Linked DNA regions of Homo sapiens: regions 2, 3 and 4 are each linked to region 1. The links come from fine-mapping of genetic effects on gene expression. A gene starts in region 1. Each other region holds a variant in brackets. All regions are shown on one strand. Distances are between the middles of the regions.

The links. PIP is the estimated chance that this variant, and not a neighbour inherited with it, causes the effect.
Region 2: its variant is fine-mapped to the expression of PRPSAP2 in gastroesophageal junction (GTEx, PIP 0.98).
Region 3: its variant is fine-mapped to the expression of PRPSAP2 in skeletal muscle (FUSION, PIP 0.95).
Region 4: its variant is fine-mapped to the expression of PRPSAP2 in whole blood (TOPMed, PIP above 0.99).

What each region holds. Positions count from the first base shown.
Region 1 is chr17:18,854,176-18,862,278 of GRCh38, reverse strand. It overlaps PRPSAP2 (phosphoribosyl pyrophosphate synthetase associated protein 2), which reads right to left and starts at 4,148. Exons shown (of 12, transcript NM_002767.4): 1 at 4,018-4,148. RefSeq lists a silencer at 3,691-4,050 and enhancers at 3,797-4,369, 6,149-6,208, 6,229-6,278, 5,797-6,297.
Region 2 is chr17:18,740,387-18,748,489 of GRCh38, reverse strand. It overlaps FBXW10 (F-box and WD repeat domain containing 10), which reads right to left and starts at 4,436. Exons shown (of 14, transcript NM_001267585.2): 1 at 3,741-4,436; 2 at 385-549. The coding sequence starts at 4,245. RefSeq lists an enhancer at 1,580-1,874. The variant A/T (reference allele first, on the strand shown) is at 4,178.
Region 3 is chr17:18,878,950-18,887,052 of GRCh38, reverse strand. PRPSAP2 (phosphoribosyl pyrophosphate synthetase associated protein 2) reads right to left here. Exons shown (of 12, transcript NM_002767.4): 7 at 4,370-4,485. Among named protein-coding and RNA genes, the nearest start is that of PRPSAP2, 25 kb to the right of the region's middle. The variant G/AG (reference allele first, on the strand shown) is at 3,650.
Region 4 is chr17:19,287,781-19,295,883 of GRCh38, reverse strand. All of the region lies in intron 4 of EPN2 (epsin 2), which reads right to left. Among named protein-coding and RNA genes, the nearest start is that of EPN2-AS1, 14 kb to the left of the region's middle. RefSeq lists an enhancer at 5,671-6,264. The variant T/C (reference allele first, on the strand shown) is at 3,147.

The sequences.
Region 1 (8,103 bases):
ACCACTCAACAGAAGCTTGAACAGCCCCAGGGTCTGATGCCCACATCCGCTGAGGGCCCATCATTCCAAATTCTTCCTTAGAACATGCTGTGGCCAGGCGCCGTGGCTCATGCCTATAATCCCAGCAAATTGGGAGAGCGAGGCAGGCGGATTACCTGAGGTCAGAAGTTCAAGACCAGTCTGGCCAACATGGTGAAACCTCATTTCTACTAAAAATGCAAAAATTAGCTAGGCCTGGTGGCACACACCTGTAGTCCCAGCTACTCACGAGGCTGAGGCAGGTGAATCGCTTGAACCTGGGAGGCGGAGGTTGCAGTGAGTAGAGACTGCACCACTGCACGCCAGCCTGGGTGACAGAGCAAGACTGTCTCAAAACAAACAAACAAACAAACAAAAGAACATGCTGAGATTCCTCTTCCTGCAGCTTCTGCCCACTGGTTCTTGTACTCTCCTTAGAGATTTATGGGAAACATCAAATTCCTTTTCCACAGGATGGCCTCCAAACTATTTCAAGATAGCTCTCCTGCCTTTGTATATTTTTTCCAGGATATTTCCTGAAGTCTTTCCTTATCTCTCATGGTTTAAAATGGCCTGCAACACCCTGCATGTGGTCTCTGACGTTCTAGACTTCAGATATAGGCTTCTATATAGAATCCTAACCTAAGACCACCCTCAAAATGACATGGTGGAGTGGACTGGGGAGCATCCACTTGGAAATGACTATCAACATAGTCATGTTTTGTGACTATTCACTTCACAAGTTATTCAAACATAAGGGCTGTTTATTTTTCTTTTTTTTCTTTTTTTTTTTTTTAAGATGGAGTTTCACTCTTGTTGCCCAGGCTGGAGAGCAATGGCGCGATTGCGGCTCACTATAACCTCCGCCTCCCCGGTTCAAGCGATTCTCCTGCCTCAGCCTCCTGAGTAGCTGGGATTACAGGCATGCGCCACCACACCCGTCTAATTTTGTATTTTTAGTAGAGACAGGGTTTCTCCATGTTGGTCAGGCTGGTCTCAAACTCCCAAGCTCAGGTAATCCACCCGCCTCAGCCTCCTAAAGTGCTGGGATTACAGGCATGAGCCACTGCGCCCGGCCATAATGCCTGCTTGTAGTTTTAGTTCTCCTTTCTCCTGTTGGTAATTAAGGCTGTGTTCTTTACCAAGCTTCAAGAAAAGAGTTATAAAGACTATCCTCAAAAACATAATAATCATCGAGATGGGGCTGGCAGGAGGCTTGTTAGCACAAGGTTTTAGTGTGAAATGAGAACACTCCCTTATTTTCCCCATGAGCTATAACTGCTTTATGTTTATTCTAAATTTACTCTAGAATGTGTGAGAATTATTTATAACATGTATGAAAACACACCGTTTTCAGAGAATCTTAGCACCTTTTAAAGAGCAAATCATACTCCTCTTTTGAATAAGATTTTAGAATGTTAAGTCTCATGAATGAAGAAACCACACTGAGAGATCATTTCCTTTGGACAGACTAGCAGTCATTTCAAAACCACTCACCCACATTTCAGATGGGGAAGACTCACATTGAAGTGTGTTGTCTTCCCTCTAAAGCATCTACTGTGTAAATACCTTCTACTTAAAGATGGCTGAAGTAGGAGTGTGAAGAGTTGGGTTTGCCTTCCAGCTACTAGGCCATGTGGACATCACTTGTCCTTGCTGGGCCTCAGCCTTTACCTTCCAGACAAGAGATATAACCTTGGTAAAAAGATTTCCCCATCAGAATTTAAGGTCCAGGCAGCAGAGACTATTTTTTACCATGATATTCTCTGCTGTATACCCTGTGCAGCTGCCACACGGTAGAGGCTAAACAAATGATTGCTGAATAATGCCTGACTTCAATGAGTCACAATGATTAACAAATGAAATTGAAAGATGAACTAAAAGGCATCATAAAGTATAAAAACCGGCCAGGCGCAGTGCCTCAGGCCTGTAATCCCAGCACTTTGGGAGGCCAAGGTGGACGGATCACCTGAGGTCAGGAGTTCGAGACCAGCCTGGTCAACAAGGCGAAACCCCTACTAAAAAATACAAAAATGAGCCAGGTGTGGTGGCATGCACCTGTAACCCCAGCTACTTGCGCAGCTGAGGCAGGAGAATCGCTTGAACTTGGGAGGCAGAGGTTGCAGTGAGCTGAGATCGCGCCACTACACTCCAACCTGGGCAACAGAGCAAGACTCTGTGTCAAAAAATTAAAAAGTATAAAAATTTATGTTTATTGGATGGGCATGGTGGCTCACGCTTGTAATCCCAGCACTTTGGGAGGCCAAGGCAGGCAGATCACAAGGTCAGGAGTTTGAGACCAACCTGACAAACGTGGTGACACCCTGTCTCTACTAAAAATACAAAAAATTAGCCGGGCGTGGTGGCGCATGCCTGTAATCCCAGCTACTCAGGAGGCTGAGGCAGGAGAATCGCTTGAACCCGGGAGGCAGAGGTTGCAGTGAGCTGAGATCGCGCCACTGCTCTCCAGCCCGGGAGACAGAGCAAGACTCTGCAAAAAAAATAAAAATAAAAAAACTTATTATGTATGTTTATTAGTGATGTGCCTCACTCCAAGGAAATCTGTTTTTAATATCAATATTGATGAGAATTTGAAGGGCAAATTCTAAACCGAATTACTCTTCCACTCCTGTATGATCCCAGGCTCTGCTTATCTCTCCAACACAATGTTAACTCATGCCTAACATCTGAGTGTTCACAATGCTTATGACAACCCAGTGAAGCAAGCACTAGAATGAGACCCATTTTAGACAGGGAAGCTAGGTTTCCAGATGAAGAAACTTACTCAAGGCTGCAAAGCCTCTAAGCAGCAAAAATAGCTCGGTCTCAGCATGATTTGTAGTAGTTAGTCCTATGCAACAGTGGGCTGCACAGCCTGTCTCTCAACCCACACAGAAAACGACTTGGCACCCCGCTGAATTCTGCATACAGAGAGCAAAATAGGACAAATACCCAGATTTTGAAAAATGTCTATTGTAAACATGCCTTGTTTGGAAAACAATTTATATAATAGTGCCAAAGAAAGAAAACAGAAGTTTGATTCGGTATTTCCACTTCGGGTAATTATCCCAAGGAAATAAGGAAAAAGCTATATGCTCAGTGATGGTGGTCAACATAAGACTTTTCAAAGAACAAGTACACCAGACCTGTGTAAAGGTTCCATAATAAAGTAATTAAGTAAAACACAGAATAGAAATTCAATAAATATTCAACACGACGCAAAAGTATCTATGAATGACTTTAAGTGGAACGAGCTCAAATCACAACTGAGTAATAATGGTACACACGAGGGCAGCAGGAAAGGAATATGGACAAAAAGGATATGCTTTAGTGGGGTTCAATAATGTGGGTGAATTATTTCTATTTGTGCAATTAAATTTTTTAAACACTAGAGATCACACCTCAAGCCCCAAAGCCCCATTCCGCATTTTCATACTCCTTTCAAAAGCTAAACACCCAAACGGAGCCAACATTAACATAAGAGAAAAATTATTATCATCAAGCAGAATACTTAAAAATTTCATCACGGTTCCCCCTCAATCTCTGCTGGGGTGAGTTCTGAGTTGGATAAAATCATCCTTTAGGAGGTGAGAGATATATTCGTAACTAGCAAAGCCAGGTAAATTAAAATCAGGGGCTCCGTGTCAGCTTAGGGACGGAGAATGGCTGGGTCTGGGCTTGCTTTCAGGGCTGCTCACCACAGGTCCCATCATCAGGGTTCGACTCCCCAGCGGCGCCTCAGGGAGAGGAGAGAGCCCAGGCACCGGACGCCCGTCCCCCGCCCCCGCCGACCCCTGGCGGGAGAGGAAGAAGGGAGGGAAAAATGGAAGGGCCGCGGGCGCGAGATCGCCCCAGTGAGCCCCCAAGCAGCCACCACCCAGGGACCCCGACCCGTCCGCCTGCCGGCGCCGCGGGCTCCCCGCCCCTTGCACCTGCGCCCCGCAATGCCGGAGCCAGCCAGCCCTCGCTGCCGCTCGCCACTGGCTCCCGCCCGCCTACCTGGCCCCGACCCCAGCCCCGGCCCCGCCGCAGCCTCAGCTGCAGAAGGAAGAAAGCGCCGGGTCTCCTGGCGGCCTCTCTAGGAGCAAAATGGCGACTCCATGCACAAGATTGGCGTCCGCGGTGACTGCGAGGCCGGTGGGCGGGGAGGGGCGAGGGCGGGACTAGAGCCCGGACAGCGGAGGCACCTAGCTGGGGGCTGTGGGCGTGGCCCACCAGTGGGTAAGGCGCGGGGCAGTGGGTGTAGCCACAGGGGTGGAGTCGGGCTGGCACGATGGGCGGGGCGGTGGGCGGGGATGCGCCTGTTTTGGTCCCTGGGGAGCTGCTAGCCCCACACCAACTGTGACAGCCCAGGCAGGTTACAAGGAATGAATGTGGACAGAGTATGACATTTGGAATTACAAATACCTGGGTTCAAGCCTCCACTGGCCTGTAACCTTGGACAAGTCATTTCAACCCTCTGAGCTTGTTTCCTCATCTGAAAAACAAAGATAGCAGCACCCATTCCATAAGACTGTTGTGAGGATTAAATGAGACAATACGGCCAGACGCGGTGGTTCACGCCTGTAATTCCAGCACTTTGCGAGGCTGAGGCGGGCGGATCACGAGGTCAGGAGTTCGAGACCAGCCTGACCAACATGGTGAAACCCCCATCTCTACTAAAAATACAAAAAAAAAAAATTAGCCAGGCGTGGTGGTGCGCGCCTGTAATCCCAGCTACTCAGGAGGCTGAGGCAGGAGAATCGCTTGAACCCGGGAGGCAGAGGTTGCAGTGAGCCGAGATCGCGCCACTGCTCTCCAGCCTGGGTGACAGAGCAAGAGTCCATCTCAAAAACAAAACAAAACAAAACAAAACTGTGCTAAAAGCACAGTTCTGGGTGTATAATAAATGATCAGTTTTTTGTTCGTTTGTTAGTTTTTTGTTTTGAGACGGAGTTTCGCTCTGTTGTCCAGGCTAGAGTGCATCGGCGCGATCTCAGCTCACTGCAAACTTCGTCTCCCGGGTTCAAGCGATTCTCCTGTCTCAGCCTCCCGAGTAGCTGGGATTACAGGTGTGCGCCACCACGCCCGACTAATTTTTTGTATTTTTAGTAGAGACAGGGTTTCACCATGTTGGCCAGGCTGTTCTCAAACTCCTGACCTCAAGTGATCCGCCCGCCTCCGCCTCCTAAAGTCCTGGGGTTACAGGCGTGAGCCATCGCGCCCAGCCATTATCAGTTATTATCGTTATTTGCCTTGTCGCCTTTTTTTCTTTTATTATAAAGGAATTAGTACTTTTGGTATCCATTGCCTAAGTTCTTTATAACTTAGGTAATGTTTACTCTTTATTGTATGTATAACATAATAATAGCAAACACATGGTCCTCTTTTAAGTGCTTTACATATATTAACGGTAACTTATTTAATCCTCACAAGAGCATAAGGTAGGTGTTGTTATCCTCTCCATTTTAATAGTTGTGGGAACTGAGACGACGACGTTAAATAACTTTTCCAATGACAAAGCAGTGGACAGAATTTCGACCCAGGAGGCTTTGCACCAGTCTTCACTTACCTAATCCCTATACCACATCTTCTCTCCAATTCTGCTTTGGATTTTTCACAATAATGAGGCATGAAATATTCATCAGAGGTTGCAGAGCTAGCTAGAGTCTTTATGGTTCAACGTCTTATTTTAGAAACGAAGAATACAAGCATCTCAACTAACGAATTGTAAATTAGGTGAGACTTCGTGAAATGGAGTCGTTTGAAACATTTCCTTTGCCTGACAACTTTACAGGGACATACCTCTTTGTAAAGAGCAAGACCCATGAGCCCAGTGATTATCTGCATACCAAAATTGATTCCTCTTCAGCGGTACCTCGGCTGGGCTCACGTCCCTTCTGCGCTGGCATCTAACTCCGGTCACAACCCCCACCTCTCTGCTGTGGCTGGCGTAGATTCCACGCGTCACATGTTGGCATGTGACTGGATCTGGCCAGTCAGAGAAGTTCATCCCTCTCCGCTCGCTGATTCGCTCCAAAGATAGGCTACTGAGCCAATCGGAGCCCACGAAACACCGTCTCCATCCCTGCGCCGGGACTGGAGAGGCTTACTCTCTCCTGCTGATGCTGCAGCTGCTGGGATGCCAGGAGGGGAACCGCCTGAGGAAAGTGCTGAGAGAAAAGAGAGGGAGGGATACAGACCGGGCCCAGATGAGTTTGCGCTGAATCTGAAGTCGGTAGGTCCCTGGACATTTCTATTATGGAAGCCAAGAAGAACCTCCCCTCCACCCTCTGAAGCCAGTGTGGATCGGGTTTCTGGCACTTGCAGTGTCTGCACGGTCTCCTCTCCTTCCTTCTCCATTGCCCTTTCTCACCCGCCTGGGCCCGCCACCCTGAACTACCGGGACACATGCTGTTCCTGCCTCCAGGCGTGCACTTCTTCCTGCAGCCTCCTCCCCTACTAACTCCTTCTTGAACTTGATAGCTCCATTGTCACTTTCGAGTCTTCCCTAAACCACTCCCTTCCCAAATAAAACTGTTTCATGTATTTTTCTTTCATTGGGCTTATCACGATTTCTAATTAAGTGTTTGGGTGGTTATTTGACAAATATCACCACCTCAGCCCCTGTACACTGTAAGCCCCATGAGGGTGGGCTCTTCGTCCCTCCTGCTGATCACTGTTTCCCAGGGCCTGGCACAAGTATGGTACTCAAGAAATGTCTGGAAAATTGAGTGCCTTATCCTTTCTGGAAAGAAAATGGGCAGTAGCGCAGCATTATATAGTGTTTGCACCATACAAGAATAATATTACTGGAAAAAAAAAAACTTTTCTAAGAGACAGAGTCTTGCTCTGTTGCCCAGGCTGGAGTGCAGTGGTGCAATCATAGCTCACTGCCGCCTCGAACTGGGCTCAAGTGATCCTCCCGCCTCGACCTCCAAAACGCTGGGATTGCAGTCATGAGCCACCACACCTGGCCTTGAATTTTTTAAAAAATCCACTCTCATTAACCAGAATGAGCTAGCTCCAGTGTATCACCGCGTCCAGGGTTCTGCAGTGGGGTGGCTTGCTCCTCAATAGTTTCCCGCACTGCAGGCACTTAGTTTGTAGTTTCATTTGTTCTGTTATAGCAATACCACTCTTCCATCCGCCATCCATTCTCCAAGGACTATTGAAATCCCTTGTAGGCTGATGTCAAAACTCTCATTCTCTTTATCCTTGGGGTTTAGGCCATAGGAGTGTGCCATGGTAGGTGTTCAGCCAAGCTGACCCACCAGGTGACTGCAGCCCCAGCCACCACCTGACTGCAACTTTATGAAAGACCCTAAGCAAGAGCCACCTAGCTAAGACCAATCAAACCACAAAAAATTGAGAGCTAAGAAATTTTTTATTAAAGCCCAAGTCTGGGCATATTTTGTTATACAATGGGTAATGAGCAAGAAAGGAGCAAAAGCATAATGTAAAGCTTGTGGTCAGTTCCACACGAATGCAGTTTTTGGTTAGTCCATTGCTAAACTTGATAATCCCTTGCCCACTTGGATGTTTGCAGTCAGAGTCTTTGCATGTAATAGAAGTGCTCAGCTTGCTGCAACACGTCATTGGCCATATTCAAGGGCTAAACTGCTGTATATCGACTATAAATCAAGATACTCAAGTCTAAGACATTTCCCTTCAACATTTTTTAAAGGAAGGAAAGGAATCTTTGCTATAGTTTGATAGAAATTTTTGAGCAGTATGGTGTAACAAAAAACACAGGATTCTCCTTCAAATGGTTGTGCAAATGAAAAAACAGGGACTTAGGTGTCCATCACTAGGATGGAGCCTGCTTCCTGCCTCCTGTCCTCATTGTGGAAATGACCCTGGACAGATCCACCTCTCTAAGTTTCTGTTTCCTCAGTGGAAAAATGAGCACTAATATTAGCAGCCATATGATGGTTGGGGGTGAGGAGTTACTTTTAGATGGAGTCCATGAGTATGAGGCACCGAGGAAGCTTTTGCAGCTGCCTCTCTGCTCTCGCCTGTCTGGCTATCAGGGAAGAAAAACAAGGCACCCCTTTTTCCCCAGTGGAAGAGGATGGCAGCTTGCCTGGCTGTAGGAGGCAGCGG
Region 2 (8,103 bases), 110 kb after region 1:
AGCCCCTCCAGTTCCACTGGGTCTTCCCAATCTCACATTGGTTGCATATTGGCTTTCTTTTTTTTTTTTTTTTTTTTTTTTGAGACAGTCTCGCTCTGTTGCCCAGGCTGGAGTGCAGTGGCATGATCTCGGCTCACTGCAAGCTCTGCCTCCCGGCTTCACGCCCTTCTGCTGCCTCAGTAGCTGGGACTACAGGTGCCTGCCACTGCGCCTGGCTAATTTTTTTGTATTTTTAGTAGAGACGGGGTTTCACCGTGTTAGCCAGGATGGTCTCGATCTCCTGACCTCATGATCTGCTTGCCTCGGCCTCCCAAAGTGCTGGGATTACAGGCATGAGCCACCGCACCTAGCCCATATTGGCTTTCTTGCTGAAAGTTCACTTACCAGGGTTAGATGCTGCCCCAAGCAAGTGTTCATTTTCTGGGGCTTTGGACAAAGGAAGGGATGTGTGCTGAGTTTTGGCTGTCCAATAGACTTGTGAGGTCGCAGACTTGGAGCTGTGGTCTTTCTCAGGGGAAAAACACACATCTGTGATGTCTTGATTGAGCCCTGAAACACAGAAGACCAAGACAAGGTTGCTCTTGAAGCGGGTGTGTTGAGGAAAATGAGGTGGAGAGAAACTTTTTCATTTTTTCTTCCTTCTTTTAAAGATGTACAGAATGGACCAGAGCAGTTATGTCTGTTTTTATTTGGGGCCTCCAAACTTCTATGCAAAAATCTCAGAAAGCTTCCTGTTAGCTTTTCAGCACGCCCCCATTGTAAAATTTCTCGAGTTGTTTATACAAGCAGAGAGAGAGAGAGTCGAGGTCAGGAATTGCAACAGGGAATGCTCTTCGGAAGCTCAAGCTGAATTTTCTTCAATGATAGAAATAACCACCCTCGAGTCAAAATAGAACATTTAACTTTTTTTTGGTTTGTTTGTTTTTGGTTTTTGAGACTGAGTTTTGCTCTTATTGCCCAGGGTGGAGTGCAATGGCTCGGTCTTGGCTCACTGCAACCTCCGCCTCCTGGGTTCAAGTGATTCTCCTGCCTCAGCCTCCCAAGTAGCTGGGATTACAAGTGCATGACACCTGGCTATTTTTTGTATTTTTAGTAGAGATGGGGTTTCGCCATGTTGGCCAGGCTCGTCTCGAACTCCTGACTCCAGGTGATCCACCCGCCTCGGCCTCCAAATGTGCTGGGATTACAAGCGTGAGCCACTGCGCCCAACCAGAACATTTAATTTTTTAAGAGAGAATCTGCTCTAAGAAAAGAGAAGGTTGTTGGCCCGGCGTGATGGTTCATGCCTGTAATCCCAGCACTCTGGGAGGCTGAGGCAGGCGGATCACAAGGTCAGGAGATGGAGACCATCCGGGCTAACACGGTGAAACCCCGTCTCTATTAGAAATACAAAAAAAATTAGCCGGGCGTGGTGGCGGGCACCTGTAGTCCCAGCTACTCGGGAGGCTGAGGCAGGAGAATGGCGTGAACCCGGGAGGCGGAGCTTGCAGCAGTGAGCCAAGATCAGGCCACTGCACTCCAGCCTGGGCAACAGAGTGAGACTCTGTCTCAAAAAAAAAAAAAAAAAAAAGAAGGTTGCCACAACCTGTAATAGGACTTAACACAACTCCAGTGTAAATAGCCCATTCCTATGGTGAATGGGATGAAGTTTTGGAAGAGCACTGTGGAGCATTGCATCTGTGTGTACAAGCCAGGCCTTCCGCTGCTGGCAGCACTCACTCCAGAGTGGAAGGGGCCCAGGAGGGGATCCTGGTTTTCAGCCCACGTGGTGGGTGACCTAAGCAAAGTCAGATGCCCTGGACTTTGGTCTCCTTATGTAAATATTAAGGATATTAAGTCGGTTGATCTCCAGTCTAACTTACTGTTTTTGACACCCTAGGATTCACTGTGTCTTCATTCTATATTATCATTCTTCTATACCCCTGACACACCAAATAAATCAAGTGACATATATTGTGATCTAATTGTGTCCTAGGCCATCCAGCTTTAAAATTCTTTTGGATTCCACTAGTCTACAAATATGACCACCTGTCAGGTCGCACTGGTGACAGGAATTACACACCTTCAAGAGCTAAAACTCCAAAACGCCTCCATGTGACCACCCCCTCCCAGCTTTCTCCCACCTCTGCTTAAATCTGAGCTTCCCCATGTTGGACCTTCCACTCCTGGACCCCTCCAAAGCTCAATTCTCTTGCCTCCTGATACAGTTTGGATATTTGTCCCCTCCAAATCTCATGTTGAAATGTGACCCCCAGTGCTGGAAGTAAGGCTTGATGGGAGGTTTTTGGGTCATGGGGGCAGATTCCTCATGAATAGCTTGGTGCCCTTCCCACAGTAATGAGTGAGTTCTCGCTCTATTAATATAGTTCGAGCAAGAGCTGGCTGTTTAAAAGAAACTGACACCCCTCCCCTTCTCTTGCTACTTCTCTTGCCTCATGATACATTGATTTCCCTTGCATTCCACCATAAGTGGAAGCTTCCTGAAGCCCTCACCAGAAAGAGATGCTGGTGCCATGCTTCTGGTACAGTCTTCAGAACTGTGAGCCAAATAAAACTCTTTTCCTTAGAAATTTCCTTATAAATTACTTAGCCTCAGGTATTCCTTTATAGCAAAGCAAAACAGACACCACCCTTATTGTTTCTTCTGCTTCCCTGAACTATCTGGCCAAACACTTCCAAGATTCTCCAACACCCTAGGCCTGTGATTCTCAAAGACAGATCCCCAGACCAGCAACATCAGCACTAGCTGGAAACTTGTTAGAAATACAGAATCCCTGGTCGAGTGCAGTGGCTCACGCCTGTAATCCCAGCACTTTGGGAGGCCGAGGCAGGCGGATCACGAGGTCAGGAGTCCGAGACCAGCCTGGCCAGCATGGTGAAACCCCATCTCTACTAAAAAATACAAAAAAATTAGGACATGGTGGCACGCACCTGTAGTCCCAGCTACTTGGGAGGCTGAGGCAGGAGAATTGCTTGAACCCAGCAGGTGGAGGTTTCAGTGAGCCAAGATCGCACCACTGCACTCCAGCCTGGGTGACAGAGCGAGACTCCATCTCAAAAAAAAAAGAAAAGACATACAGAATCCTGGGCCCACCTCAGACCTGCTGAGTCCGAAGTTCTGGGGGAGGAGCTTGTTTTAACAGGTCCTGCTGGAGATCCTGATACAAGCCACAGCTGGAGAACTACCACCCTAGACTTATTTGGCCCTTAAGCTATCTCCAGCCTTGGAGAAACTCTACTTTAAGGTTTCATTTCATGGATAAGCAAGGAGCATGGTAGAGTGAATGAAAAAAAAAAAAAAAGCCCTAAGTTTTGACTTCTTGGTCTGGTTTCTGTGCAGGGCAGCTGAAGAGAAAAACAAAAGCTTCCCCTTTACAACCCTCTCGAGCTCAGTCCAATCCCTAAAGCAGGAACGACACCAGCATTAAGGGGTCAGGGGCAGGGACCAGCCATTTCTGGGCCTATGAGATGCAGAAATCCATGATAAATGCTTGTGAGTTAAAAGTTGTGTACTTCCTCCTGCATTGATCATTTTCAAGAAGGAAGTTACACTCAGTCATTTCTCCTTTGGTAAACAGGATCGGGTGTCAGGACAAGGTGTCAGTTCAAAAAACCTATGCTGAGTTCTGTGCAATCTCTGTCTACCTATGTTGTCTACAACTGCAGTTCCTTACAGATTTCTGAAGCCTTGCCTTCTGGTCTTCGGGGGCCCTCTAGTCTCTGCCTGTGGCCTTGTTTACCTGAGATATTGTTCTCCTCTCTCAGAAACAGGACTCTGATCACATTGGCAGCAGTGAGCAGTAATTTGGGGTTGCACATCTGCAGCAGTAAGAGAGTATAATTCGCCTTGGTCCACTGGGTGCTGTTCGCAAACCAGTACAAGATCTCTTTCATCTTCTGTTCTACTGTTTTATCCAACATTTGGTTCAAGGAGGACTTCACAACTTTCCCCTCTTTCTTGCTGAGGTTGATCCGGGACCTGTTATAGATGAAATCCTTTCCCTGTGTGGTCTGAAGGATATTTTGGAAATAGTGTAACAAATATAAGCTATTTAACTGCTTCAGAATGCCAACTAGAAACCTCCTCTGTGATATGTCATTGATCCTGCAGAACCACTCTTTGGTAGAGAAGATCTTCCAGGCTAAGACACACGTCTCACACTTCCGGCATAGAGGG[A/T]TGGAATCGGTTCCCTTCTCACAACGAAAATAGGGGGCATTCTTGAGCCTTGATTCCAGGTTTTCCATGATCCTAAGATAACCAGTCCATTTTAGCCCTGCGCACTTGCAACGGCAACGCCACCAAACACTAGAGGAACGGGGGGAATGAATAAATACCCCAGTTGTGCCTTTTCTATTACAAACGTCTCCCAGAGCAAAAGTAAATGGCTGCCATGGATGGAAAGCCTATCTCTCTCAGTAACTGCCAGCAGAAGTCTGGCTTTTTGTACAGACCTCCTTGGAAACATGGCTTTACCGTAAATCTCCTAAACCTGGCACTGCTTTATGTGGAGGCAGTTGCTGTATATTCTGAAAGAGCTGGTCATCTCATTTCTAGAACAACAAGAATACTGTTAGTCAAATTTAAGTAATATGTGGACTATTACTGGTATTGCACTTTAATTATTGTTGTTATATATGGCTTCTGAATATTCATGAATATAAAATAAGATGCAAACTTCTTATGTTTATATCTGTTCAGTTACAAACTGGCTATCCCAATGATGCTAAATATGTTTATATTCATTTTCTTAAGTCATCATCAAAGTAAAACCAGAAATGTTTAATGTAAATTTAAGTTATTTAACTGCTTCACAATACTAACCAGAAATCTCACTGTAGTCAAAGGGCCCAGGCAAAACATATTGGGCAGCTCACAGAAAGAGTTTCAAAGTCATGCTGAGATAATTCTCCTACTGCAGGTAAGACTCGGTTCAAACATTGACTCTGGTACTTAGGAGCTATATGGTCTCGAGCAGGCAACCTGTCCTCTCTGAGCCTCAGTGTCTCCATCCTAGTTATGAGGATGGAGAAGATAAAGGTGGGTAATAAAAATGATAACTACCTTCTAGGATTGCATTAAATATATGAGATCAGTTGTTGCTGCTATTGTTACTGTTACTAAGTATTATTACCCTAGATAAAATCAAAAGGTTTGCAATATTGTGTGCCTTTCTAATGCCCATGTTGAAAGACCAGGCACAACCAGAGAAAGGTAATGGAGTCCATCGCTGGGGTTTTGTTGGCAATGGCAGTCACATACTAGGGTCAGAATGGGGAATAAGAATCAGGTTAAGAATGAGATCAGTTCTCACAGCTCAACCTCTTCTGTCTGAAGAGGAATCTGGAGAAAAGGCATGAGTAGATTAATATTTAATTAATCGGGAAGGCCAGACAAAGGAGGGTGGCAAAGAGAAGGGAGGCCCGAAGCAGACTCTTTGGATCTGTAAGGCGAGCACGTTACCCTAAGAAGTGCTGCAAGCTAAAAGTAGCTCTTTTTTTTTTTTCGTAATTAACTTGTTTATTTATAATTGACAGATTATAAATAGCTTGTTTTTAAAGATTTAAATAAATTAGGATTTTAATCTATGAGGCTGACATTCTTCAAGGAAGCATTTTTTTTTTTTGGAGGCAGAGTCTCGCTCTATCCCCCAGGCTGGAGGGCAGTGGTGGCATCTCGGCTCACTGCAACCTCTGCTTCCCGGGTTAAAGTGATTCTCCTGCCTCAGCCTCCCGAGTAGCTGGGATTACAGGCATGGGCCACCATGCCCAGCTGAGTTTTATATTTTTAGTAGAGACGAGGTTTTGCCACGTTGGCCAGGCTGGTCTTAAACTCCTGACCTCAAGTGATCCGCCCGCCTCAGCCTCCCAAAGTGCTGGGATTACAGCGTGAGCCACCACCCCAGGCCAAGGAAGCAGTTTTAATCACCCAACTCAGTCTTTATTTCACATTTCAGGGCCACAAACTTGGGAGTCAGAGAGACTAGATTTCAGACATGAGTCTTATCCCCTCTCCCTCAACACTGCACACACACGGTTCTCCTCAAACACCTGTGGACCATAGTATGTTGTTGCCCCTCGGCACCTCCTTTTCTAAACAGCTTCTTTGAGAAGATGACAACGGGCTGCCTCCTGAGAATAGAGGGACAAGGGGTGCTCTAGAGCAAGTGAGTGCGAGAGGACAGCGCCTCACTCCCTTCCTCCCTGCCTCCTGCTGGCCTGCACCTTTCAGAGGTTGGGCCATACACCTGACTTTGGGGGGAAGTTGAAGCCATTTGGGATCTGATGTTACAGTTAAAAATGTGGCCTTAGGCCAGGCGCAGTGGCTCATGCCTGTAATCCCAGCACTTTGGGAGGCTGAGGCAGGCGGATCACGAGGTCAGGAGATCGAGACCATCCTGGCTAACACGGTGAAACCCCATCTCTACTAAAAAAAAAAATACAAAAAATTAGCCGGGTGTGGTGGCAGGCGCCTGTAGTTCCAGCTACTCGGGAGGCTGAGGCAGGAGAATTGCGTGAACCCAGGAGGCGGAGCTTGCAGTGAGCGGAGATGTGCCACTGCACTCCAGCCTGGGCGAGAGAGCAAGACTCTGTCTCAAAAAAAAAAAAAAAAAAAATGCGGCCTTGGCACAGGGCAGGATAGATGGGCCAGATGGGATAGGCCAATGCGGGGACATGGCGCCAGTGGTACTCAAACAGGCAGGTGGGCAAATAGGCCTCATCAGACCGACTCACAGGAGTCCAGTGGGGGAGAGCACTTCTCCGAGGAAGGCTATAGGATGCGAAGGACATCTGCGACCTCTCAAGTATTTAGGCTACGAGCAGCCTGGAGGCTTCATGCCAGTCCCCTATCTTTCCTTTCTGCCCTGTTTTATTCACGATCCCGATAAAACCTCCTCAGCACACAACCCTAAATCTGCACTTGCTTTTCCTGCCTTCCCACATAGTATGGAGAAGCTTGGAAGGTGCGGCCGCTGCTGGGCCAGATAGAGGACAATGTGTCACACCCATCCGGCTCTGATGTCACACTTGACACTGCACCAGAGGACCTGAGCCTCTGCTGGCTCCAGCCCAGCCCCTTTGCCTTCCCCTGCTGCCACCTGGCCTGGCCAGCCAGCAGGGACTCAGGAAAGCACACAGGTTTCAGAGTAGGAGGGCAAGGAATGAACTGGGCTCTGCCACGGAGCAGCTTCATATGCCTGAATAATTCACTTGCTAGTCTCAGCCTGCTCCTCTTCCATGAAGTAGAGACCATGGTCCTACCTAGCTCATAGGTGGCTGTCGGGGTCAAATGAGTAGACTTTTACACCATGTGAGGAGCTAACAATTATTATTAGTATCATTAGGGAGTGTGGAAAAAGTGTGATATCTCATCTCTCGCCTTCCCATCATGTGGTATTACACTTGTTGGAAGTTGAATTTTAAAAAGCTTGGCTGGGCGCGGTGGTTCACGCTTGTAATCCCAGTACTTTGGGAGGCCGAAGTGGGCGGCTCATGAGGTCAGGAGATCGAGACCATCCTGGCTAACACGGTGAAACCCCGTCTCTACTAAAAAATACAAAACATTAGCTGGGCGTGGTGGTGGGTGCCTGTAGTCCCAGCTACTCGGGAGGCTGAGGCAGGAGAATGGTGAGAACCCGGGAGGTGGAGCTTGCAGTGAGCCAAGATAGCACCACTGCACTCCAGCCTAGGCGACAGAGTGAGACTCCGTCTCAAAAAAAAAGAAAAAAAAATTTAAAAAGCTTTTGTTCATGAGAAACCAGCGCATGCACATATATACACACTTTCTTTCAGGTGATCATCAGGGTCACTACTTAAGTTATTAATGTGGGGGAAAGGTTTTTCACCTAAAATGACTGACCACTGCTATATTGACCCTTGGTCCTTATGAAATGATCTGTTCTCCCTCCTTTTCCAGTACTTGGACTACTTCCTTCTGGGAGACAGTGGGATTTTCCCAACAAGACTACAGAGCAAGCCAGAAATAGAGATTAAAAACTAGGCACATTCCAGCAAGGCAGGGATGGCCAACACTCTACCCGAGCCATGCACAGTCTGTGCCCTGCATGGACATATTGGGGGCATATCAACAGCAGGTTGCCCTGC
Region 3 (8,103 bases), 25 kb before region 1:
AGGCAGGAGAATCGCTTGAACCTGGGAGGCGGAGGTTGTGATGAGCTGAGATTGCGCCACTGCACTCCAGCCTGGGCAACAAGAGCAAAACTCCGTCTCAAAAAAAAAAAAAAAAAAAAAAAAGAAGAAAAGAAAAATTATCATGTATGCAGAAAGACACAGGAAGAGACCATCAGAGTATAATTTGATATTCATGAATCAAATATTCATCACTGGAAAAATGATACAATTCCACATTTTCTTGCAAGGCAACAATCAAATGCTTTATGAAACTTAAGAAAGGAAGATCCCTACCAGTAGGTCAAACTGTGAAAAGGACTGCCTGACACATCCCCAGCAGTGCAGCGGAAGGCAACAGACACTGTCAGACGCCCTCAGAAGAGATGGCAAAAGTTGGCTGGGCGCGGTGGCTCACACCTGTAATCCCAGCACTTTGGGAGGCTGAGGCGGGCAGATCATTAGGTCAGGAGATTGAGACCATCCTGGTTAACACGGTGAAACCCCATCTCTACTAAAACTACAAAAAAATTAGCCAGGCGTGGTGGTAGGTGCCTGTAGTCCCAGCTACTGGGGAGGCTGAGGCCTAGGAGAATGGCGTGAACCCGGGAGGCGGAGCTTGCAGTAAGCTGAGATTGCGCCACTGCACTCCAGCCTGGGCGACAGAGTGAGACTCCGTCTCAAAAAAAAAAAAAAGTATAGATGGCAAAAATTTCAAGGCAACGAGCATCCTAGTACCAGAATGTTCCTTCTGACTCTGGCAGAAGGTGCTTAAATTCCAGTGACAAACACAAGAGATGGAGAAAGCGTCAGCATCAAAACCTGCAGAATAGGATCACTAAGTGACAAGAAGGCACAGTGCCACAGTATAATTAGCAGTGTTTTCTTCTTTCTTGGTGACGTAAAATAATGTAAGCCTGGACTGACAGCACCTTAGATTCAGTGAAACATGAATATCTATCCCCTGCTTTAAGAGGCTCTAACACACGAAAACAAAAGAGACAAGATACGTATACTATAAAAAGGCAATACAGGCCAGGTGTAGTAGCTCATGCCTGTAATACCAGGACTTTGGGAAGCTGAGGCAGGCAGATCACTGGAGTTCAGAAGTTCAAGACCAGCCTGGCCAACACGGTGAAACCCTATCTCTACTAAAAACACAAAAATTAGGCCAAGTGCGGTGGTTCACACCTGTAATCCCAGCACTTTGGGAGGCCAAGGTGGGCAGATCACCTGAGGTCAGGAGTTCGAGACCAGCCTGACCAACAAGGAGAAACCCTGTCTCTACTAAAAATACAAAATTAGCCGGGTGTGGTGGCACATGCCTGTAACCCCAGCTACTCGGGAGGCTGAGGCAGGACAATCACTTGAACCTGGGAGGGGGAGGTTGCTGTGAGCCGAGATCATGCCATTGCACTCCAGCCTGGGCAACAAGAGCGAAACTCCATCTCAAAAAAAAACAAAAAACAAAAATTAGCCAGATATGCTTGCTTGAACCCAGGAGGCGGAGGCTGCAGTAAGCCAAAATCGCACTCCAGCCTGAGTGACAGAGAGAGACTGTCTCCAAAAAAAAGAAAAAAGCAATACACAAAAATTCCTTTTTAACACTGAGTTCCCACATATTAATTTTTTTTTTTTTTTTTTTTTTTTTTGTGAGAAGGAATCTCACTCTGTCGCCCAGATCACGGCTTGATGCAGCCTCGACCACCTGGGCAACTTCAACCTCCCAGGCTCAAGCAATCCTCCCACTTCTCATCCTCTTGAGTAGGGGGGACCACAGGAATGCACCACCACACCTGGTTAATTTTTATATTTTTTGTAGAGACAGGGTTTTGCCATATTGCCGAGGATGGTCTTAAACTCCTGGACTCAACTGATCCAACCTCCTCAGCCTCTCAAAGTGCTGGGATTATAGGTGTGGGCCACCACACTCAGCCCTGACTTCTTCTCAACAATGAAACTAAAATGGGGATTTTTTCAAGTAGAAGGCAGTGTCATCCTCAGGTAGAAGCCTGCACTACAGGCAATGACTAGCGTTAGGCTTCCAGCCTGACCTTGCAACCAGCACAAGGGTGCCCCAGCCTTCGTTCTTTAGGCTCACCCACCGGGCATCCCTTAAGAGGTGCAATTGCCATTTGTGCCTTGAGACATTGGCACACAACATGCCTGTGTCCTGAATGGAAACATCCCCTAAAACAACAAGATGTCGACAGCAACCCACATAAGTCTATAGCGACTGCTCTATTTCTTCCAAAATGACAGGTTTCTCCATGCGGCTGGTTGCTAACTGAACCACGTTCAATGCTCACCCTCTCACTCTCTCTCTGCCTAAACCTCTTCATCCTTCCCTATCAAGACATTTGCCAATTTTATCTCACCTTCTCTCTCAACTAAGAATAATATTCAGGTAAAATTAGGCCAGGCACAGTGGCTCACACCTGTAATCACACTGTTTTGGGAGGCTGAGGCAGGAGGATCGCTTGAGGCCAGGAGTTTGAGACCAGCCTGGGTAACACAGCAAGATTCTGACTCTGGAAATATTTTTTAAAAATTAGCTAGGTGTGGTGGCACACCTCTAGTCTCAGCTACTCAGAAGGCTGAGGTGGGAGAAATCTCTTGAGCCCAGGAGTTCAAGGTTGCAGTGAGCTATCATGGCACTACAGCACTCCAACCTGGGTGACAGAGAAAGACCCTGTCTCAAAAAAAAAACATAAAATTTTTCAGGTAAAATTAAAGTCTCTATTATTTTTTTAATTTGTTAGAGTATTTTTGTTTTCTTTTTTGTTTTTTTGAGATAGTCTCGCTCTGTCACCCAGGCAGGAGTGCCGTGGCACAATCCTGGCTCACTGTAACCTCCACCTCCCAGGTTCAAGCAATTCTCCTGCCTCAGCCTCCCAAGTAACTGGGATTACAGGCACGCGCCACCACATCCAGCTAATTATGTATTTTTAGTAGAGATGGGGTTTCACCATGTTGGCTAGGCTGGTCTGAACTCCTGACCTCAAGTGATCCACCCGCCTCAGACTCCCAAAGTGCTGGGATTATAGGCGTGAGCCACTGCGCCTGGCGTAGAGTTTTTATGTTTCTTGTGTGTAACTTTAAAGAAAAAAAAAAAGCAGAATATTTTACATTTTTCTCTTTCAAAAATACTTAAATTCATTTTCTCTATAAGGACTTATAACAATTGCTGGAGAATGGGGAAGCCCTGTATTCTTACCAGAAAGAAGTTCCTCAGAAACCTATAAACTGCCATCTTTTAAATACAGTACTGTAAAAAGAAGTTATCTTCTTTTAAATACAGTACTGTAAAAAGAAGTTATCTAGAAAAGTTATTAAAGAGAGAAATAATTTATATAAGAAAAACCGCTAAGGCCAGGTGCGGTGGCTCATGCCTGTAATCCCAGCACTTTGGGAGGCCGAGGCAGGCAGATCACGAGGTCAGCGTTCGAGATCAGCCTGGCCAACATGGTGAAACCCCATCTCTACTAAAGATACAAAAAATTAGCCAGCTGTGTTGGCGCATGCCTGTAATCCCAGCTACTCGAGAATTGCTTGAACCCGGGAGGTGGAGGTTTCAGTGGGCTGAGATTGCGCCATTACACTCCAGCCTGGGAGTGACTCCATCACACCCCCCACCAAAAAAAAAAAAAAA[G/AG]AAAGAAAAACAGCTAAAAGCAAAATAGCTAAGTACAGTATAAATTAACATTTTAAAAGCTTTCTTAAATAGTAAGTCACAAAAATGCTAACTCATATCAAAGAAAAACAAATGTAGCTATATTAAAATTAAACATCTGATTTATCCCAGGATTCAAGGGTGGTAATAAACCACATTAACAGAATGAAGGAAAAAAAATGATCATCTCCACTGATACAGAAAAAGCATCTGACAGATTCAGCACCGCTTCAGGACAGTGGTTCCCTAGGGTGGAAGGAGGCAGGGGGATAGGACAGAGAAGGAGCCCATGAGCAGCTCTAAGTTATGATGATGACTCTAGTTTTCTTGCTGGGAGGTGGGATCATGGATGCTGGCTATTATAACTGGATGGACAGAGAGACAGGATGGATAGATGGATACATAAAACAGAACCAGGATCAAGCATAGACTAGTAATGAGAGTAAATTACTCATTACAATCATATCTAGTCCAATTCTAGGTACTTGAGGTCCAAAAGAAAAAGCAATTTTAAGAGCTTATCTAAAGAAACAAACTGCAGATTCAGAATTCTAAAATGCGTTGGATTATAGCTATAAAGTATAATGGTACTTTAAGTACAATACATCAAGTTTTAATCCTTTAGGGGTATCCTAAGGAAATGGAAATACATCTTTCAACCTTAATCAGAATGTTAAAATAAAAAAGTTTGAGCTAGCTCACCTCTTCTTGAATATACTGTAATAAGAAGGGAGATGCTCTTAAATTGTCAACAGGAATATTGAAGAAGCCCTGAATTTCCTTCTGGTGTAAATCCATAGTAATAAGATGAGTTAGACCTTTGAAAATAAAGCAGACACAAGCAATAAATAGTTTTGTTTTTGTTTTTTTTTTTTAAGATGGGATCCCATTCTGTCACCCAGGCTGGAGTGCAGTGGCATGACCATAGCTAACTGCAGCCTTGAACTCCTAGGCTGAAGCAATCCTCTCACCTCAGCCTTGAAAGTAGCTGGGAATACAGGTGCATGCCACCACGCCCAGATAATTCTGTATTTTTAGTAGAGAAGGGGTTTCATCATATTGGCCAGGTTGGTCTCGAACTCCTGACCTCAAGTAATCCTCCTGCCTCAGCCTCCCAAAGTGCTGGGAATACAGGCATGAGCCACTGCACCCAGCCTATAAACAGTTTAAAAACAAGTTGCACTGTATAAAATAGGTACTACATAAAATACTATATACAATAAGTTACTATTAAAAAATTGCTCTCCAGCCGGGCACTGTGGCTCACGCCTGTAATCCCAGCACTTTGGGAGGGCGAGGTGGGTGGATCACAAGGTCAGGAGTTCAACGCCAGCCTGACCAATATGATGAAACCCCATCTTTACTAAAAATACAAAAATTAGCTGGGCGTGGTGGCGTGTGCCTGTAGTCCCAGCTACTTGGGAGGCTGAGGCAGAAGAATAGCTTGAATCCGGGAGGCAGAGGTTGCAGTGAGCCAAGATCATGCCACTGCACTCCAGCCTGGGTGACAGAGCAAGACTCCGTCTCAAAAAAAAAAAAAAAATTGCTCTCATGGCCGGGCACAGTGGCTCACGCCTGTAATCCTAGCACTTTGAAGGCCAAGGCTGACAAACTGCTTGAGCTCAGGAGTTTGAGATCAGCCTGGGGAACATGGCAAAACCCCGCCTCTACAAAACAAAAATTAGCCAGGCATGGTGGCGCACATCTGTAGTCCCAGATACTCAGGAGGCTAAGGTGGGAGAATCGCTTCAGTGCAGAAGGTCAAGGCTGCAAGTGAGCTGAGATTGAGCCACTGCATTCCAGTCTGGGTGACAGAGTGAGATCTTGCCTCAAAAAAATAAAAAATAAGGCCGGACACGGTGGCTCACGCCTGTAATCCCAGCACTTTGGGAGGCCGAGGCGGGTGGATCACCTGAGGTCAGGAGTTGGAGACCAGCCTGGCCAACATGGCGAAACCTCATCTCTACTAAAAACACAAAAATTAGCCAGGCATGGTGGCACGTGCCCATAATCCCAGCTACTCGGGAGGCTGAGGCAGGAGAATTCGCTTGAACCTGGGGGGGCGGAGGTTGCAGTGAGCCGAGATCGCACCACTTCACTCCGACCTGGGTGAAAGGGGGAGACTTGGTCTCAAAAAAAAAAAGACAAAATTGTTCTACCATCAAAAAAACTCAGCACTTGTATTTTTCAAAAAAAATTTTTTTTTTTTTAGTACTGTGAGATGCCTGATTTTCACATCAATTTAAAGTCTTGGTCAGGTGCGATGGCTCACAGCTGTAATCCCAGCACTTTGGAAGGCTGAGGCAGGCGGATCACCTGAGGTCAGGAGTTCAAGACCAGCCTGGCCAACACGGTGAAACCCCGTCTCTACTAAAAATACAAAAATTAGCCAAGTGTGGTGGCATGTGCCTGTAATCTCAGCTTCTAGGGAGGCTGAGGCAGGAGAATCACTTGAATCCAGGAGGTGGAGGTTGCAGTGAGCTGAGATCATGCCACTGCACTCCAGCCTGGGCGACAGAGCGAGACTCCATCTCGAAAAAATAAATAAATAAAAAATAGTCATAATATAGCAAAGATAACAGTAATACAGAAGAGTCTTTAAAAATTATATTAGAGCAGATCAAATCTTCTTGAAGTTTAACAGGCATGGCAAAGTCCAGTCTTAAGATAACAAGTCAGCCGGGTGTGGTGGCTCATGCCTGTAAACCCAGCACTTTGGGAGGCCGAGGCAGGAGTATCACTTGAGCCCAGGTGTTTGAAAATGGCCTGGGCCACATGGTGAGACTCCATTTCTACTAAAAATACAAAAAACTAGTCAGGTATGGTGATGCATGCCTGTAGTCCCTAGTTACTCTGGAAGCTAAGGTCGGAGGATCACTTGAACCCAGGAGGTCAAGGCTACCTCCTGGTAGTGAGCAGTGATCACACCACTGCACCCCAGCCCGGGCAAGAGGACTGAGACCCATGGGGAAAAAAAAAGATATCAAGACAAACTGCACCAGCCTGGAAATTGGAGAAAACAGAAAACCTTCACCACCTTTGTAACGATCACCAGAAAAGTGTAAGGAAAATTCAGTATGAAAAATTGTTTAAAGCATTACTTGCCCAAAAGAACAGGAAAGTAAGTCTGGAGGCCCATCAAGCAAGGCTGGTAGAGAAGATGGGCCCTTTCCTGAAGATTCAGCAGGCAAGCCTGCTCTCCTCACCAGCTGCCTGTCATAGTGTTTACAATGGGGTAGGCTCCTGAGGTTGCTTCGGGTTGAGTTTTTAATTTTATTTTTATTTTTTTGAGACGGAGTTTTGCTCTTGTTGCCCAGGCTGGAGTGCAACGGCATGATCTTGGTTCACCACAACCTCCACCTCCCGGGTTCAAGCAATTCTCCTGCCTCAGACTCCCGAGTAGCTGGGATTACAGGCATGTGTCACCACACCCGGCTAATTTTGTATTGTTAGTAGAGACGGGGTTTTTCCATGTTGGTTAGGCTGCTCTGAACTCCCAACCTCAGGTGATCGCCCCCTGGTTCTCCCAAAGTGCTGGGATTACAGGCGTGAGCCACCACACCCTGCCTAGTTTTTAAATGTTTGTTTTACGTTTGCCTTTACTGAAAAACTATCTTAGAAAGTTTATTCTGGGCTGGGCGTGGTGGCTCACGCCTGTAATCCCAACACTTTGGGAGGCTGAGGAAGGTGGATCACCTGAGGTCAAGAGTTCGAGACAAGCATGGCCAACATGGTGAAACCTCGTCTCTACTAAAAATACAAAAATTAGCCAGGCGTGGTGGTGGGCGCCAGTAATCCCAGCTACTCAGGAGGCTGAGGCAGGTGAATCGCTTAAACCCAGGAAGTGGAGGTTGCGGTGAGCCGAGATCACGCTACTGCACTCCAGCCTGGATGACAGGTGAGACTCAAAAATAAAAAATAAAAATAATAATAATTAGTTGGGCATGTTGGTGTGTGCCTGCAATCCCAGCTACTCTGGGGGCTGAGGCAGGAGAATTGCTTGAACCCGGGTGGTGGAGGTTGCAGTGAGCCAAGATCACGTCATTGCACTCCAGACTGGGCAACAGAGCAAGACTCCGTCTCAAAAAACAAACAAAAAAAAAGGTTTATTCTACAGTAAGTACCTGTCTTAAAATGCAGTGATATGGGGACTTTTATTCTATTCACTCTGTGCAAATGCTCCGTGATACATACCTTCTAAAATCATATACATTCAGGCTGGCTATGGTGGCTTGTGTCTGTAATCCCAGAATTTTAGGAGCCCAAAGCAGGTGGATCACTTGAGGTCAGGAGTTCGAGACCAGCCTGGCCAACATGGCAAAACCCCATCTCTACTAAAAATACAAAAATTAGCTGAGTGTGGTGGCAGGCACCTGTAGTCCCAGCTACTAGAGAAGCTAAGGTACAAAAATCGCTTGAACCCAGGAGACAGTGGT
Region 4 (8,103 bases), 430 kb before region 1:
CTGATTAAAGCCTGACAGGGAACCAGCAGCCCCCAGCACACTGCTGTCAGTGCCACCGCGGCACCTGGGGCCCTCCCAGAGATTCTAATTTGAGAGGTGTGGGAGAGGTGTGGCCCAGGATTTGGGACATTTTGGGAGATTTAAAAGCTTGAGAGCTAGTGATTTAGGGAAAAAAGGCAACTGTCAAAATGAGGAACTGCCTTGTATCACTAAACAAAAACAACAACTATGAATCATACTGTTGCTAAACTCAACCTTAAAGCATCGAGAAACCACACAAATATATAAGGCATTCCTATATTTCTGGAATTGACTTCAAATGTATTTTTTCTTTTCTTTTCTTTTTTTTCTGAGAGGGAGTTTCACTCTTGTCACCCAGGCTGGAGTCTAATGGCACGATCTCGGCTCACTGCAACCTCCACTTCCTGGGTTAAAGTGATTCTCCTGCCTCAGCCTCCCAGGTAGCTGGGACTACAGGCATGCACCACTACACCTGGCTATTTTGCGCGCACGCGCGTGTGTGTGTGTGTGTGTGTGTGTGTATTTTTAATAGAGATGGGGTTTCACTGCGTTGGCAAGGCTAGTCTCGAACTCCTGCCCTCAGGTGAGGAGAGAGGAGAAGAGAGGCTTATTTAGCACTCATGCATGAAGTATGTTCTGAGCACCTTTCCTGGTTCAGGTGTTGTGCTAAAGACACTAGGGATACAGCACGGGGCATGAACGGGGCTCCTGCTCTAACAGCTTGTTTTAGTGCAGGGAGACAAAACAAAGCAAATAAGAGAATTTCAGGTAGTGAAAAAGACTCTGAAGATAGTAAAAAAGGATATGATACAGAGAGAGATTTAACTTATATGGCCTACTTCCCATGGGAAGACAAATCTATCTGCATGCCTTCCCTCCTGTTTCTAGTCATATAATTTTTTTTTAATGCCTCCTGGAAGTTGTCTATTTGAAACTAGCAACTGCTGTACTGAGCATCCATGAATAAAGACACCGTCAGCAGCTGTGACTATGCTAGCCAATCTGACTTAAAACATCTGACAGGGAACCAGCAGCCCCCAGTACAATGCTGTCAGTGCCACCGCAGTACCTGGGGCCCTCCCAGAGATTCTCATTTGAGAAGTGTGGCAAAGGTGTGGCCCAGGATTTGGGACATTTTGGGAGATTTAAAAGCTTGAGAGCTAGTGATTTAGGGAAAAAAGAAAAGGCAACTGTCAAAATGAGGAACTGCCTTGTATCACTAAACAAAAACTAACAACTATGTATCATACTGTTGCTAAACTCAACCTTAAAGCATCGAGAAACCTTCTACACTTATTGACAGTTTATAAACAATAGTTTGTTTACCTATACTACAAAGGATCCTTAAAAAACAGGTAAATATTGTATTGATCCATTTTCTATGGCACACGCCAATGTCAATCATTTAATCAATAACCCAATCCCCAATATTTTTTTTCTTTTGAGAAAGGGTCTCGCTTTGTCACCCAGGCTAGAATGCAGTGGCACAATCTTGGTTCACTGCAGCCTGGACTTCCTGAGCTCAGGCGATTCCTCCCACCTCAGCCCCACAAAGTAGCTGGGACTACAGGTGCACACCACCATGCCTGGTTAATTTTTTTTTTTTTTGTAGCGATGGGGTTTTGTTGTGTTGTCCAGGCTGGTCTCAAACTCCTAAGCTCAAGCAATTCACCTGCTTCAGCCTCTCGAAGTGCTAGGATTACAGGCATGGGCCACTGCAGCCGGCCTCCCAATCAGCAATTTTGATAGCACTGTTTCTTTTTTTTTTTTTTAAAGACAGAGTCTTGCTCTGTTGCCCAGGCTGGAGTACAGTGGTGCGATCTCAGCTCACTGCAACCTCTGCCTCCCAAGCTTCAAGCAATCTCCTGCCTCAGCTTCCTGGGTAGCTGGGATTACAAGCATCCACCACCACACCCGACTAATTTTTTGTATTTTTGGTAGAGACAGGGGTTTCACCATGTTGGTCAGGCTGGTCTCAAACTCCTGACCTCAAGTGATCCACCAGCCTCGGCCTCCCAAAGTGCTGGGATTATAGGCATGAGCCACCGCGCCCAGCCTTGATAGCACTGTTTCAATTCTGAGAACAATCCCATATTCTGACAATCAGAGGAGCTCCTTAAGATCTGGGGCCCAATTAAATAATGGTTTAATTAGGTATTCCTGGCTGAGTGTGGTGGCTTGTGCCTGCATGCCTGTAATCTCAACACTTTGAGAGGCCGAGGCCAGAGGATAGCTTGAGCCCAGGAGTTCCAGATCAGCCTGGGCAACGTGGCAAAACCCCACCTCTACAAAATACAGAAAGTAAAAAAAAAAAAAAAAAAAAAAAAAGCTGGGTATGGTGGCATGCACCTGTAGTCTCAGCAACCCAGGAGGTTAAGGTGAGAGCATCACTTGAGCCCAGGGAGGTAGAGGCTGCAGTGAGCCACAATCACACCACTGCACTCCAGCCTGAGCAACAGAGCAAGACCCTGTCTTTTTTTTTTTTTTTTTTTGAGATGGAGTTTCGCTCTTGTCACCCAGGCTGGAGTGATCTCGGCTCACTGCAACCTCTGCCTCTCAGGTTCAAGCGAATCTCCCACCTCTGCCTCCTGAGTAGCTGGGATTACAGGTGCCCACCACCATGACCGGCTAATTTTTTTGTATTTTTAGTAGAGATGGGTTTCACCATATTGGCCAAGCTGGCCTCGAACTCCTGGCCTCAGGTGATCTGCCCGTCTCAACCTCCCAACATGCTGGGATTACAGGCGTGAGCCACCCTGCCCAGCCAATCCCATCTTAAAAAGAAAAAAATAATAATACAGAAAAAAGCATTATATAAGATGAACCATATAATTTTAAAATTGTAATAGGTGTACACCGTATTTGCCTATTTTGCAGAAAAAATTTTAAAGCAATTTCAAAAACTGTCAAGTAGAGGAAAGAGAACCAGAGTTCTTCAAAATCCCAGTTCTAATTCTAGCTTCTTCACTTACAAATGAGAGGATTTAGGGGAGCAAGTTCATGTCAGTTTCCTTATTAACCTCATCTGCCCTGCCTACCTTCTAGACAACTGTGAGAAGCAAATGGACTCCTCCTAAGAGAAGGCAAAGGCCCAGGAGAGGTGATCCAGATGCCTTCTGGTTGTG[T/C]TGGGCAACTGTCTGACTTTAGCAGCCCAGCCATTCACGAATCACATTCAAATCCCACTTAAAACCCAAGCCCTTGTGGCAAGAACGAGCATCTTTTATACCTGATACTTGGATAGATGTGTCAATAAATCTGCTGCCTCTGAGGGTGTGTTCATGTTACTGATCAGCTTCCTCCATGACTCAATTTTCCACCTGAAGAGATTAACTCTCTCTAGAGTAAGCTAACGCTGACAGCCCTGCTGTGCCTCTGCCCCTGGGACTGACTGCCAGCCGAAGATGCAGGGCTCCCCTGACTTACAGAACACATTTGTTCCACCAAAACAAGATGCCAAATGAGTCTCATCTCCCACCAAATTCCTGGTCCATCCCCAAAACCCAATGGAAGGGCCCTGAGGGCTAGACACACTCCCCACAGGTAGCTATCCCTGGCCTGACACTAGGAAATACCTGGCTGGTGGCCACCAACCACCTCTCAGCCCCGGGCGGGCCCTGCTGCCCTCCTAGTTCCTGGCAGCATCACTCAGCCCTGCACCTTGGAGCTCTGTCACCTCCCACACTCTCAGGAGACCTCAGCTGGCCCAGGATCCTTCCAAGGTCCACCTCAGAAGCACTTCTGACACGCTGGCTGGGTTTGGCTTTTCTTTTTTTTAACAATATATTTTCCCACATCTTTGAGTTTTCAAAAGTAGACCCATGTAGGACTCCCTTTTCAGATGCCTCCTTCTTACCAAAACACTCTCCTTTGTGTGTACATGTCTGGTGTAAGTGCACATGTGTCTGTGTGTGCGCATGCTTCAGCTCTATTCCCAGAGCTGGGCAAGCAGGGCTGAGGCCATGACAACTCTGGTTCACCCCTGAGGTTCCCTTGTTATGAAGACAGCTTCCGTAGAGAGTCCTCTGAGGGCCCACTGTGCCTGGGGACTTCCTGGACATACTCATGAAACAGCGCACAAGAAAGCTTTCAAATTCTACCAAGTCCCCATTGGGTTTAAGAATGAGGCCGGGCGCGATGGCTCACGCCTGTAATTCCAGCACTTTGGGAGGCCGAGGCGGGTGGATCATGAGGTCAGGAGATCAAGACCATCATGGCTAACACGGTGAAACCCCATCTCTACAAAAAACACAAAAAAAAATTAGCCGGGCGCAGTGGCGGGCGCCTGTAGTCCCAGCTACTCAGGAGGCTGAGGCAGGAGAACGGCGTGAACCCAGGAAGCGGAGCTTGCAGTGAGCCAAGATAGCGCCACTGCAGTCCAGCCTGGGCGAAAGAGCGAGACTCCGTCTCAAAAAAAAAAAAAAAAAAAAAAAAAAAATGAATGGCTGATAACCGTGGATAGCCTTGCCATTCCACTCCCTGAGAAATCCTGTTTCCCCTTAGATTCTTGCCAGGCCACTCGAGAGTGGAGGCATGGCCCGAAGGCCTGGCGGACAGCAGCAGCAGCTGTTGGGGTGATGCCGCAGGACAATGATCACGGCCACTGCTCCATGAAGTCCTGGGCAGGCTGCTTGACACTCTGGCCTTCCCAGCTGCACAGTATCAAACCAAATTTGGATCCATCTCTAGCCACTGTATACAATCCTGGCTTTTCTTTCTCACCTCTGTTTTCCTTTTGCCCCAATTTCTTCTGGTATCTATTGAATCCTGTGGCATTGCATGTGTTTTATAAGCCAACTCAAATCCTTTCTAGTAATCACTTGGCAAACCCTTGCCGGGTGGGGTGTGAGAGGAGCAGCCTCAGCACAAGGGGCTCTCAGCCCAGAGGACCAGTAGCCCAAAGGAATCCCTGTCATTTCTCTGGGAGCAGACTTGAAGCATACTACAGCCAGGGCCAGCGGCGTCAGCAAGACAGGAGGGGCCATGAGGAGAGCCAAGAAGACCCGGCTGCAGGCAGCAGCCCCCACCTGGTACAAAGCCCACCACTGCTTACTTTGGTTTCAGAACCCAAGTTGGTTCTGATTCACTTGAGTGAATCAGAAAGCAATGAAGATTTCTATTCTGCCTGCCTTCCTTTTTCTTTTTTTTTCTTTTTTTTTTTTTTTGAGAACGGGAATGCTGGGCAGTTAAACTCCCACCAAGAACTGCAAGGTACCAGGCAACTCGGGACTTGCTCAGGGAGCATCAAGACAGCTGTAGCTCTGGCTCCGCAGACTCAGCAAGGGGGCTGAGAACACCAAGCTGAGCATTCCTTCCTTCCCTTACCCACCCTCAACAGAGGCCAGCCAAGGCAGAAGATCTGGCCCCTGGCCTTAGAGTGTCCTTGGTGAGAGGACAGCAGCAATCTTTCTTTCCATTCCTTGACTCAGGAATGCTTTTCTCATCCCCATCTGCCTCCCTTTGATGTAGGTTCCGTCTACCCCAAGAACTTCTGTAATTTCTCCAAAGCCTTTTGACACTGTGGCCAGTTCTGCAGAACAGAACAGGAAATGGTGGAAAGAGCCCGGGGGGCGGGTAACATGTGGGCTGCTCACCCCCACCAGGTTGCAGTTCAGGCCAGCTGCCATCTCTGCGTGATCTTAGGCAAATCCCTCAACCCCCTGGGCCTGAGGGTCCTCCTTTGGGCTGCGCAGCTTCTGCCCACACACAACTGTCCTGAGCACTGACTACATGCCAGGATCATGTGAGGGCAGCCAACACGGGTAAGCCTTAAGAGGAGCCAGCCTTGGGAGGGCAGCTGGTGTGTCTGAAATTACAAGACCACCAAGTAAACATGAGTGCCAGAGGCTAGGCATGGTGGCTCACGCCTGTAATCCCAGCACTTTGGGAGGCCGAGCTGGGCAGATCACTTGAGGTCAGGGGTTCAAGACCTGGCCAACATGATGAAACCTCATCTCTACTAAAAATACAAAAATTAGCCAGGCATGGTGACATGTGCCTGTAATCCCAGCTACTCAGATGGCTGAGGAAGAATAGCTTGAAGCCAGCTAGGCGGAGGTTGCAGTGAGCCCAGATCACCCCACTACACTCTAGCCTGGCCAACAGAGTGAGACTCCATCTCAAAAAAAAAAAAAAAAAAAACCATGAGCGCCAGGTGAGGCCGAACAGCTGACGGCTATAAGCACTGTCCATGCCCTGACAACTTCCAAAGTGTGCCTGCAGCCCAGAATTCTCCCCCCAACTCCAGACTTCTCAGACCTTCTTGACACCTCCACTTGCGTGTCTAGGAGACACTTCGATGTGTCCTGAACTCAACCCCTCCACTAACCTACTGCACCCACAGCCGCCCTCATCTCAGATGATGGCAGCTCTGCCTCCAGCTGCTCTGCTCCCAGCCCTCAGAGTCATCCTCAGCTCCCCTCTCACTCTGCCCAGTCCTCTAGCAAGGTCTGTCAGGTCATCTTTAAAACATACCCAGAATCGTCCAGGTGCGGTGGCTCACACCTGTAATCCCAGCACTTTGGGAGGCCAAGGTGGGCGGATCACGGGGTCAGGAGATCAAGACCATCCTGGCTAACATGATGAAACCTCATCTCTACTAAAAATACAAAAAATTAGCCGGGCGTGGTGGCGGGCGCCTGTAGTCCCAGCTACTTGGGAGGCTGAGGCAGGAGAATGGCGTGAACCCGGGAGGCAGAGCTTGCAGTAAGCGGAGATCGTGCCACTGCACTCCAGCCTGGGTGACAGTGCAAGATTCTGTCTCAAAAAAAAAAAAAAAAAAAAAAAAAAAACATACCCAGAACCTGGCTACTGCCCAGATTTCTGCAGCCCTGCCAGGTCCAGACCCCCACCATCTCCCACCTGGATGGGGACAGTGGCCTCCTGACCTGGCTCCCTGCTCCCACCTTGCCCATACACACCCCAAGGGATCCTCCTAACCCTCATCTTCCCCCATCTCACTGTGAGTGAAAGTCAAAGAAATTTCTGACATAAACCCAGAAGGCCCAGCACCGGGCCACTGAGTGCATGGTCTGCAAGGTAAGCACAGTGAAAGTGTTTCAAAAGCTCCTAGCAATGACATCGGCACAACATCTAAACATGGACACAAAAGGACCCGTCTGGATGGACTAGGAATTCAAGGAATGCTCCCAACCAGACAGAGTTGAGAGGCCCTGCCCCACACCTCCTCCAGGCCCACCTCTGCCACGCTCCACCCCCACATACTGGCCATGCTCCGTCACTCATCGCCACCTCACTGGCTGCCTTTTCTCAAACACCCTGAGCACACTCCCACCTCAGGGCCTTTGCACAGCTGCCCTTCTGCCTGGAAGGCTCTTTCCAACCTCCACAAGGCTCACCCTCACACTCCTTCAATCCTTGATCCATTCATACTGCAAGCCACCCTCTCTTACCTCCCCAAAGACACTCAAGCAAGACTGTTTTTGTTTTGCTGTTTTCCAGAGCGCTCATTACATAACATGCTGAATAATTTATATTGTGTTTTTCTTTCCCATTACCATATAAGCTCCACGAGGGCAAGGGGCTCTGTTCTGTGCTCAGTGCCTGGTGCCCCATGGGAACTCAATAAATACAGAGCAGAGGGCAGGTAGACCAGGCTTCAAAAGGAAAGCCCAGAGCTGTGCCTGCAGGCAGACGTCAGCAGGCCTGGGAAGGTCTGGAATGCTTCCGCCGGAACAGGAGGACCCCCAGACTGAGGGCAGGGGACACAGCTGGTGGAAGCAACTGAGGTCTGCAACGTCAAAGGCTCTGGGATGGCCCTGCAGGGCCTGGCATCTAAAGGGGCTGAGACTCAGGACCAGGGCATCCTTTATGAAGATGGAGGGTAGGTGAGACTGGGAGATAATGACAGCAGGAAATTGGTCAGAAGGCTGGCACTGAATTGAGGCCATGGAACAAGATGGACAATTCAAGAGACTTCCAAGGTCAGATCTACAGATCTATGTGGGAGGTGAGAGAGAGGGAGGGGCACAGGGAGGATGAGATGACATATGGCACATGAAAGAAAGCTCTCCTCAGACATCCTCATGATTATCGCCAGTCACACAAGAGGCCTTCCCGGCTGTG